Regions from separate parts of the Homo sapiens genome. Here region 1 is reported to be linked to region 2. The links are microRNA targets in miRTarBase. Many come from high-throughput screens and were not tested one by one. Region 2 holds a microRNA gene; the other region holds the end of a gene's coding sequence.
What was found. The annotated mature microRNA hsa-miR-6085 reads AAGGGGCUGGGGGAGCACA and lies in region 2 at 2,921-2,939, opposite strand. An mRNA with a match to its seed (bases 2 to 7 or 8) in the 3' UTR can be bound and repressed. Matches are read on the target gene's strand: a 7mer-m8 pairs with bases 2 to 8, a 7mer-A1 pairs with bases 2 to 7 and ends in A, and an 8mer does both.

Region 1 (4,006 bases), not on the chromosome of region 2:
GAGTCCTGGCACCTGTCACCCCTGCTGTGTGTGGGGCTCTGGGCACTGCGGCTGTGGGGCGCCCTACGGCTGGGGGCTGTTATTCTCCGCTGGCGCTACCACGCCTTGCGTGGAGAGCTGTACCGGCCGGCCTGGGAGCCCCAGGACTACGAGATGGTGGAGTTGTTCCTGCGCAGGCTGCGCCTCTGGATGGGCCTCAGCAAGGTCAAGGAGGTGGGTACGGCCCAGTGGGGGGGAGAGGGACACGCCCTGGGCTCTGCCCAGGGTGCAGCCGGACTGACTGAGCCCCTGTGCCGCCCCCAGTTCCGCCACAAAGTCCGCTTTGAAGGGATGGAGCCGCTGCCCTCTCGCTCCTCCAGGGGCTCCAAGGTATCCCCGGATGTGCCCCCACCCAGCGCTGGCTCCGATGCCTCGCACCCCTCCACCTCCTCCAGCCAGCTGGATGGGCTGAGCGTGAGCCTGGGCCGGCTGGGGACAAGGTGTGAGCCTGAGCCCTCCCGCCTCCAAGCCGTGTTCGAGGCCCTGCTCACCCAGTTTGACCGACTCAACCAGGCCACAGAGGACGTCTACCAGCTGGAGCAGCAGCTGCACAGCCTGCAAGGCCGCAGGAGCAGCCGGGCGCCCGCCGGATCTTCCCGTGGCCCATCCCCGGGCCTGCGGCCAGCACTGCCCAGCCGCCTTGCCCGGGCCAGTCGGGGTGTGGACCTGGCCACTGGCCCCAGCAGGACACCCCTTCGGGCCAAGAACAAGGTCCACCCCAGCAGCACTTAGTCCTCCTTCCTGGCGGGGGTGGGCCGTGGAGTCGGAGTGGACACCGCTCAGTATTACTTTCTGCCGCTGTCAAGGCCGAGGGCCAGGCAGAATGGCTGCACGTAGGTTCCCCAGAGAGCAGGCAGGGGCATCTGTCTGTCTGTGGGCTTCAGCACTTTAAAGAGGCTGTGTGGCCAACCAGGACCCAGGGTCCCCTCCCCAGCTCCCTTGGGAAGGACACAGCAGTATTGGACGGTTTCTAGCCTCTGAGATGCTAATTTATTTCCCCGAGTCCTCAGGTACAGCGGGCTGTGCCCGGCCCCACCCCCTGGGCAGATGTCCCCCACTGCTAAGGCTGCTGGCTTCAGGGAGGGTTAGCCTGCACCGCCGCCACCCTGCCCCTAAGTTATTACCTCTCCAGTTCCTACCGTACTCCCTGCACCGTCTCACTGTGTGTCTCGTGTCAGTAATTTATATGGTGTTAAAATGTGTATATTTTTGTATGTCACTATTTTCACTAGGGCTGAGGGGCCTGCGCCCAGAGCTGGCCTCCCCCAACACCTGCTGCGCTTGGTAGGTGTGGTGGCGTTATGGCAGCCCGGCTGCTGCTTGGATGCGAGCTTGGCCTTGGGCCGGTGCTGGGGGCACAGCTGTCTGCCAGGCACTCTCATCACCCCAGAGGCCTTGTCATCCTCCCTTGCCCCAGGCCAGGTAGCAAGAGAGCAGCGCCCAGGCCTGCTGGCATCAGGTCTGGGCAAGTAGCAGGACTAGGCATGTCAGAGGACCCCAGGGTGGTTAGAGGAAAAGACTCCTCCTGGGGGCTGGCTCCCAGGGTGGAGGAAGGTGACTGTGTGTGTGTGTGTGTGCGCGCGCGCACGCGCGAGTGTGCTGTATGGCCCAGGCAGCCTCAAGGCCCTCGGAGCTGGCTGTGCCTGCTTCTGTGTACCACTTCTGTGGGCATGGCCGCTTCTAGAGCCTCGACACCCCCCCAACCCCCGCACCAAGCAGACAAAGTCAATAAAAGAGCTGTCTGACTGCAATCTGTGCCTCTATGTCTGTGCACTGGGGTCAGGACTTTATTTATTTCACTGACAGGCAATACCGTCCAAGGCCAGTGCAGGAGGGAGGGCCCCGGCCTCACACAAACTCGGTGAAGTCCTCCACCGAGGAGATGAGGCGCTTCCGCTGGCCCACCTCATAGCCAGGTGTGGGCTCGGCTGGAGTCTGTGCAGGGGCTTTGCTATGGGACGGAGGGTGCACCAGAGGTAGGCTGGGGTTGGAGTAGGCGGCTTCCTCGCAGATCTGAAGGCAGAGGCGGCTTGGGCAGTAAGTCTGGGAGGCGTGGCAACCGCTCTGCCCACACACCCGCCCCACAGCTTGGGCAGCCAGCACACCCCGCTGAGGGAGCCCCATATTCCCTACCCGCTGGCGGAGCCGCTTGATGTGGCGGAGCCGGGCAATCCACTTGGAGGGGTAGATATCGGTGGGGTTGGAGCGGCTATGATGCACCTGTGAGGCCATCTGGGGACGTAGGCAGGGGGTGAGCTCACTATCAGGTGGCACCTGGGCCTGTCCCACCAGCTCACGCCTGGACCCACCCCCACTCACATTTGCGTGCAGGGCCATCTGGCGGGCCACGAAGGGCAGGTTGCGGTCAGACACGATCTTGGCCACGCTGGTGTCCACAAGGCCCTCCATGTCTGGGGAGACTTGGTGGTCACGCCAGGCCCAGGGCTCTTGGCGCCACACTGCAGGGCCCCACCCGGCCCTACCTTTCCTGCACTGCAGGGCCCCACCCGGCCCTACCTTTCCTGCACTGCAGGGACACCAGGTTGCACTCGTAGTCCAGCGGGGTGACGATCACGTGGACAAAGTTGAACTGGCCCTGCCCGGACAAGAGAAAGGGTCATCCCCGCACACAGCGTGTGCTGAAGGCTGATCTCGGCTACTGCCTGGTTGCACTGCTAGACACCTGTCAGCTCCATGGGCAGCATCTGCCCCTGAACTTTCCCCTCTGGCAGCGGGGCTGTGTTTGTCTGGCCTCCCCCAGGCCAAGCCCCCTCCACATCTGGGCGCAGCACCCACATATGCTGCAGCCACAGGCAAGACACCTCTAATTGCTGGGGCACCTCCACTCACTGGGGCCCCCAGGGTGTCTGCAGCCACACGTCCGAATCCGTCTGCCCAGCCATGAAGTGAGCCGTGCACCCCATCTCGGCACCACCACACCCTCCTCAGCCGCCCAGGTGCCCCCCCCCCCCCAACTGGTTGTCTTGGCATCTAGCAGAGCCCACCTCCCTATGCTCCTGCCCCTCCTGGACTCTGACTACCAGCCCCGGGGTTTTGGTTCAGTGGCTGCCTCAGCATCCTGGGGCCCTTGGAGTGAGGCCTCCAGCCTATCTGCCCTGCCTGGGCCATGCCAGCTCTCCCCGCCATGCTGGGGCTCACCCGGACCGTGCTGTGACACTGGCCGACCCAGCCCACCTCCAGGAAGAGGGTGACGCTGGTTGCTGCCTAGTGGTGCGTGGCGATAACCAACTGAGCAGCCTGACAGCTGCCACTGGGGAGATGGTGGGGGCCCAAGGGCCGCGCCGGACAGACAGGAAGCACCAACTACACTGTGCCCACCCAGCACACCCAGTCTGCACTTGCCAGTTACTCCTGACAGACACTCAGCAGCAGGCGCCACAGGCTTCAGGGCACAGAGGACACAACGCAGGCTCGGGGTGAAGCTCGTGCCCACGGGGCCCTGAGCACTGCGGCCTCTCCTCCTGCTCCTCGTGACCGAAGCTCAGGGAGGAGGACCTGCCACCAACCCGGGACACAGCAGTGGGCACCTGCCTGGGGCCCAGCCTCACTGACGGCCCCTCACTCACCTTGATGGTGCCAAGCTTGAAGTCCTCACCGGAGTCATTGTAGACAATGGACACAAAGTCGTTGCCCAGGTGGCGCTTCTTGTCGCAGCGGTGCTTGTCCACGTCCTTGGTGGGCATCAGGGTGGCGATGTGGAAGACGGCTGAGGGTGAGCAGGGCCGGATGGGTTTGTGGGGCCAGTGCTGAGGCCCTCTGTGCCTTGCACTGGGGCACCTCCTGATTACTCCAGGGGCTCTGGGGGCCTGCGGGGACCACGTCCTCTGGTGCCTGGCCAGTGGTCCTCGGCTCTCCCCAGGGGCAGGGCTTTGGGACGCAAAGCCACCAGCCCCATCACTGCCTCCATGCCCACGCTGTTAGGCTCGGAACCTGAGGCGTGGGGAGC
Region 2 (4,511 bases):
GTCCTTGATCTCCATTTACACAGATGTCCCTGTCTCAAACCGTGGGAGAGCGGTGATGGAGAAGGAGACACACTGTCCTTGGGGATTGAGGAGGCAGTGGAGAGCATAGCATTTTAAGAGGTCTTATGCCAGTTTCTGTACCTACCCCCCTCAGCCTGGTAAATGAGGAGGTGCAGCGCCTTCCTCTTAGCTTCGCACTGAGCCAGGCACATACAAAGATGTTTCCATTTATTTTATTTTTATTTTTATTTTTTGAGACAGAGTCTTGCTCTGTCACCCAGGCTGGAGTGCAGTGGTGCGATCTTGGCTCACTGCAACCTCCACCTCCTGAGTTCAAGTGATTCCCCTGCCTCAGCCTCCTGAGTAGCTGGGATTACAGGTGCCCGCCACCACGCCCAGCTAATTTTTGTATTTTTAGTAGAGATGGGGTTTCACCATGTTAAGTCAGGCTGGTCTTGAACTCCTGACCTCATGGTCCACCCTCCTCGGCCTCCCAAAGTGCTGGGATTACAGGCCTGAGCCACCACGCCCGGACCTATTTATTTTATTTTATTTTATTTTTATGGCTTACTTTTTCTGTCTTAAGCTAGCTACTTCATTATCATCATTTACCCTCTGATAGTCACCCAAGTACTGAAGGCAAGCATTGTCTTTATTAAATCGAGAACTGATCACTTCACTGTCTCCTCTAAAACTTTGGATGCCCAACATCTCACATTGCTATAAGGAAAAGGCCAAAGTCCTTAGTCCAGCCACAAAAGTCCTCACAATCTGGCTAAAGCCGACTCTTCATTTCCTCTCCCACCTCTCCCACTCAGAAAACCTAAAGTGTAGGTAGCCACTGTGAGGAAACCTACCAATGTCAGCCATTCAGCGACATCTGGGTCCCACAGGGTGTTGTACAGGTGGCCACTAGAGGGACTCTTCTCAAAGTTAACAACAGAACGAGTGTGTCTCTGTGTGTGTGTGTGTGTGTGCGTGTGCGCGCGCACGCGTGCGTATGTACGTGTGTGTGCGCGCACGCGCGCGCCTGAGTAGCAGGTGGGTTTGAAGGCTTGATTATCAGCTTCCCCACCTAAAAGCAGTTGATAGAAGATGCTGACCTGGATTGGGGCCTTGGCTATTTACTCGGGCAGGTTGGATCAGGCCCTGGGGAGCAGGGAGGAAAGTGGGGGTGGGAATGGAAGGAGGGAAGGAGCCCTGGAAAGTTTGGTATAGACCAGCTTTGCTTTCTTAACCCTCCCCATATGCATTCAGGGACGGAAGACAATGGGATACATTTTTGAGTTAGAGCTTGAATCCCTTGCTTTCCTAATTCAAGAATTTAGGGGCCACATAGAAATGGACAGCACTCTATCTAATCTCACTTCCCCTACTCAGGAATCAAATGGAGTCACAGAGTGGGGAATATTTATACTTTGTATTTTAGGAGAAAAAAATACATTGAGGTATAAGATAAAATATTTGCTCTCTAATACCTAACGAATCAGTATTTTATAAACACCTAATTATTAGTCTTACAGAACTTAATTACTTAAGAGTCAGGTTGATTAAAATATTGCATCTTTTAGGCTGCTTATATGTGATATTTTATAAAACCAGAATGATGACAACATGGTTTATAATTGTCATTGCTTTCGTGACCACATTTTGGCTATTTTAGAATGAAGTTCAATTTTCTCAAACTGATGTTCAAGACCCTCAAGCATATGACCTGCATTTCCCTCAGGCAGCTGAGCAATCTTACTGCCAGCTCCCAGGTGCCTGTTCACTTCTCTCTTTTGCTGTCAGAGTTCTTCATGCTAGGAACTTGCCCTGCCCTCTCCTTGCCTTCCAAATATAATCCTTTTAGAGATAGCTGTTCTGTCATCCTTAGAATCTGCATCACAGACTTCAAAACTGTAGAATATGTTATACTGTTTCTATTTGTTTCTTCAAGTTGCATGTGCAGAAGCCTCATTCCTAAACAAAACTGTAAGCTACTTAAAGATAAGGACTGTGTCAATTTTTTCTTTTTCTCTTCTTTCCTTTTCTTTTTAAATTCTTAGGGTCAGGCCAGTAGCAGCAGGCTGTCAATAAATGTCTCTGAATTACCTCTAAATTTGCCACTTGTTCAAAGGCAGACATTTGACTTGGAAGTGCACTAGGAGCTAAAGGGAACCAGCAATAATAAAACCCGGTGAAATGCAATTTCCTGTTTTGTGTAGCACTCGAGTCAAATATTTCTGCCCTATCTCCTAGGAAATATAGAACAAATCGAAATTGAAAAAATGTAAGGAAGTCATCCTGAATGGTTGCTAAAGAAACAAAATAAAGCATCAGGTTTTCCTAACCATGGATTCCACGGCCGACAATTTGAACAGTAAGGCCAACCTTGGCCATGTGTGGCCCAGAGCCGGCCCGCACCTGTGCAGGTGTGGCTCATATTCCATTCTTTTCTGTTGGTTTTGGTTAACATTTACATCCTCCACTGCAGGTGAGAGGCTGACTGGAGGGTGCTTTCCTGGCAGCCAAGGCAAATGGCCATGGACCAGATGGCACCGGGTGTGTGTGGAAGGGCCGGCGGTCCTTCTCTCCTCTTCTGCGGAGTCCTCGGTGTTGCAGGCCTGGAGTGCAGCAGTGGAGGCAGAAGCCAGACTACATTTCCAAGACCCTCCTTCTGCCAGCTGCTTCTGCTGGGGGTCTGCCTGCGAGAGGCACTGATAGAAGGTGAAAGCAGGAAGAAGAAATGAGCCTCTGTGGCCTCCGGCCCCTTGAAGGGACCTCTGGCCACGGCAGCAGCCAGAGGGTGTGGGCTCCTGGTTCCCGATCAGGACCCCGCGCAGCCCCATCAGCACAGTGGCAAAGCCTCCAACAGGCCAGTGCCGTGCTGGCCGGTCGGGTGCCAGCATCCTGATGTCTGGGTGATCTCCTTCTCCCTTGTGCTCCCCCAGCCCCTTCAGCACCTTTTGCAACCAGTTTTCTGCATGAAATCCCGGCCTCAGCATGAACTATGTAAAGCTGGGCCCACACCTGGTAGACAGGCTGCAGTGAGGGGTGTGTTCAGCAGGCCTGAATTTCAGCCATAAATTTGGGGATAAGAGAAATATTGCATTTCCTTTGCTTTTTTTCTTTTTTCTTTTCTTTTCTTTTTTTTTTTTTTTTTGAAACAAGGTCTCGTTCTGTTGCCCATGTGGGAGTACAGTGGCACAATCATGGCTCACTGCAACCTCAGACTCCTGGGCTCAAGCAATCCTCCCACCTCAGCTCCCTGAGTAGCTGGGACCACAGCCTTGAACCACCACACTTGGCTAATTTTTGCAGTTTTGTAGAGACGGAATCTTACCATGTTGCTCAGGCTGGTCTCTAACTCCTGGGCTCAAGTGATCCTCTCATCTTGGCCTCCCAAGGTGGTAGGATTACAGGTGTGAGCCACCGTGCCTGACCGTGTTTGCTTTTTTTTTTTTTTTTTTGGAGATGGAGTCTCTCTGTGTCGCCCAGGCTGGAGTGCAATGGCGCAATCTCAGCTCACTGCAAGCTCCGCCTCCCAGGTTCATGCCATTCTTCTGCCTCAGCTTCCCGAATAGCTGGGACTACAGGTGCCCGCCACCACGCCCGGCTAATTTTTTGTATTTTTAGTAGAGATAGGGTTTCACCGTGTTAGCCAGGATGATCTCGATCTCCTGACCTTGTGATCCACCTGCCTCGGCCTCCCAAAGTGCTGGGATTATAGGCGTGAGCCACCGCGCCCGGCCTGCTTTTCTTAAATAAACTTAATTTAACCTTCAAGTCCGGTGACTGCTGGGCAGTCATCGCTAGGGCTGTGCTGATGTCCTAGGGGAGCACAGAGGTTCTGGCCATTCTTGGAGCGAGGCACTGGTGAGGCCCCCAGGTTGCAGTGAGGAGGCCCCCACTGTCTTAGTCTGTACCGTGCTTCAGGGCTGCCAGCTGTGTTGGGCCTTCTTCTACTGGGAGCACAGAAGCCTTTGTTAAGTTTGGGGCCCAGGCCTAGGATGCAGCCTGCCTGGGGCATCGCACAGTGCTTCCCTCTGAGGTCCTGCCACCTCGTGAGGTCTGCCAGGGAATAGGATGCTGGTCCTGTTTCCTTGTAGGAATCACACACTTCTCTCTCCTGTCTCTACCCTGGAGGAATTTCCTTTGGGTCTGAGACAATTCTTTCCCCACCTCTGCTTCCTTCAAAGTCCGTCTATCTTGTCTCAATAAGCCTATGCTTTTGGAAATAAAAGCCAGGAAGGGGCCTTGAAGGGACTACCACTTCCTGCCCTGCCTCAAATCTCCCCTGAGGTAAGGAGGCCAGGATCTCCTATCTGCTCAAATGGCAGAAAGGAAGGAGAACTCCAGAGAGAAGAATTTAAACTGATTTCTTCAAAGCTTCTCCTGCCAGAATTGAATATGCCGAGGAGCTGTATCACTTCTGTAGCATTCCTGCCAATATGCCCTAATCTGAATCTAACCATGAAGAAACAACCAAATTCGAATTGAATAACAGTCTACAAAATGTCTGCCTGTAC

Region 1: miRTarBase lists PKD1 as a target of hsa-miR-6085. Seed matches in the 3' UTR shown: 7mer-A1 at 1,148-1,154.

The regions. Positions count from the first base shown.
Region 1 is chr16:2,086,492-2,090,497 of GRCh38, reverse strand. PKD1 (polycystin 1, transient receptor potential channel interacting) reads left to right here. Exons shown (of 46, transcript NM_001009944.3): 45 at 1-213; 46 at 304-1,790. The coding sequence ends at 771. It overlaps TSC2 (TSC complex subunit 2), which reads right to left. Exons shown (of 42, transcript NM_000548.5): 38 at 3,627-3,766; 39 at 2,557-2,635; 40 at 2,359-2,450; 41 at 2,173-2,271; 42 at 1,007-2,052. The coding sequence ends at 1,888. It overlaps MIR1225 (microRNA 1225), which reads left to right and starts at 214; the gene lies at 214-303.
Region 2 is chr15:62,341,539-62,346,049 of GRCh38, reverse strand. It overlaps MIR6085 (microRNA 6085), which reads right to left and starts at 3,021; the gene lies at 2,912-3,021. RefSeq lists an enhancer at 518-1,018.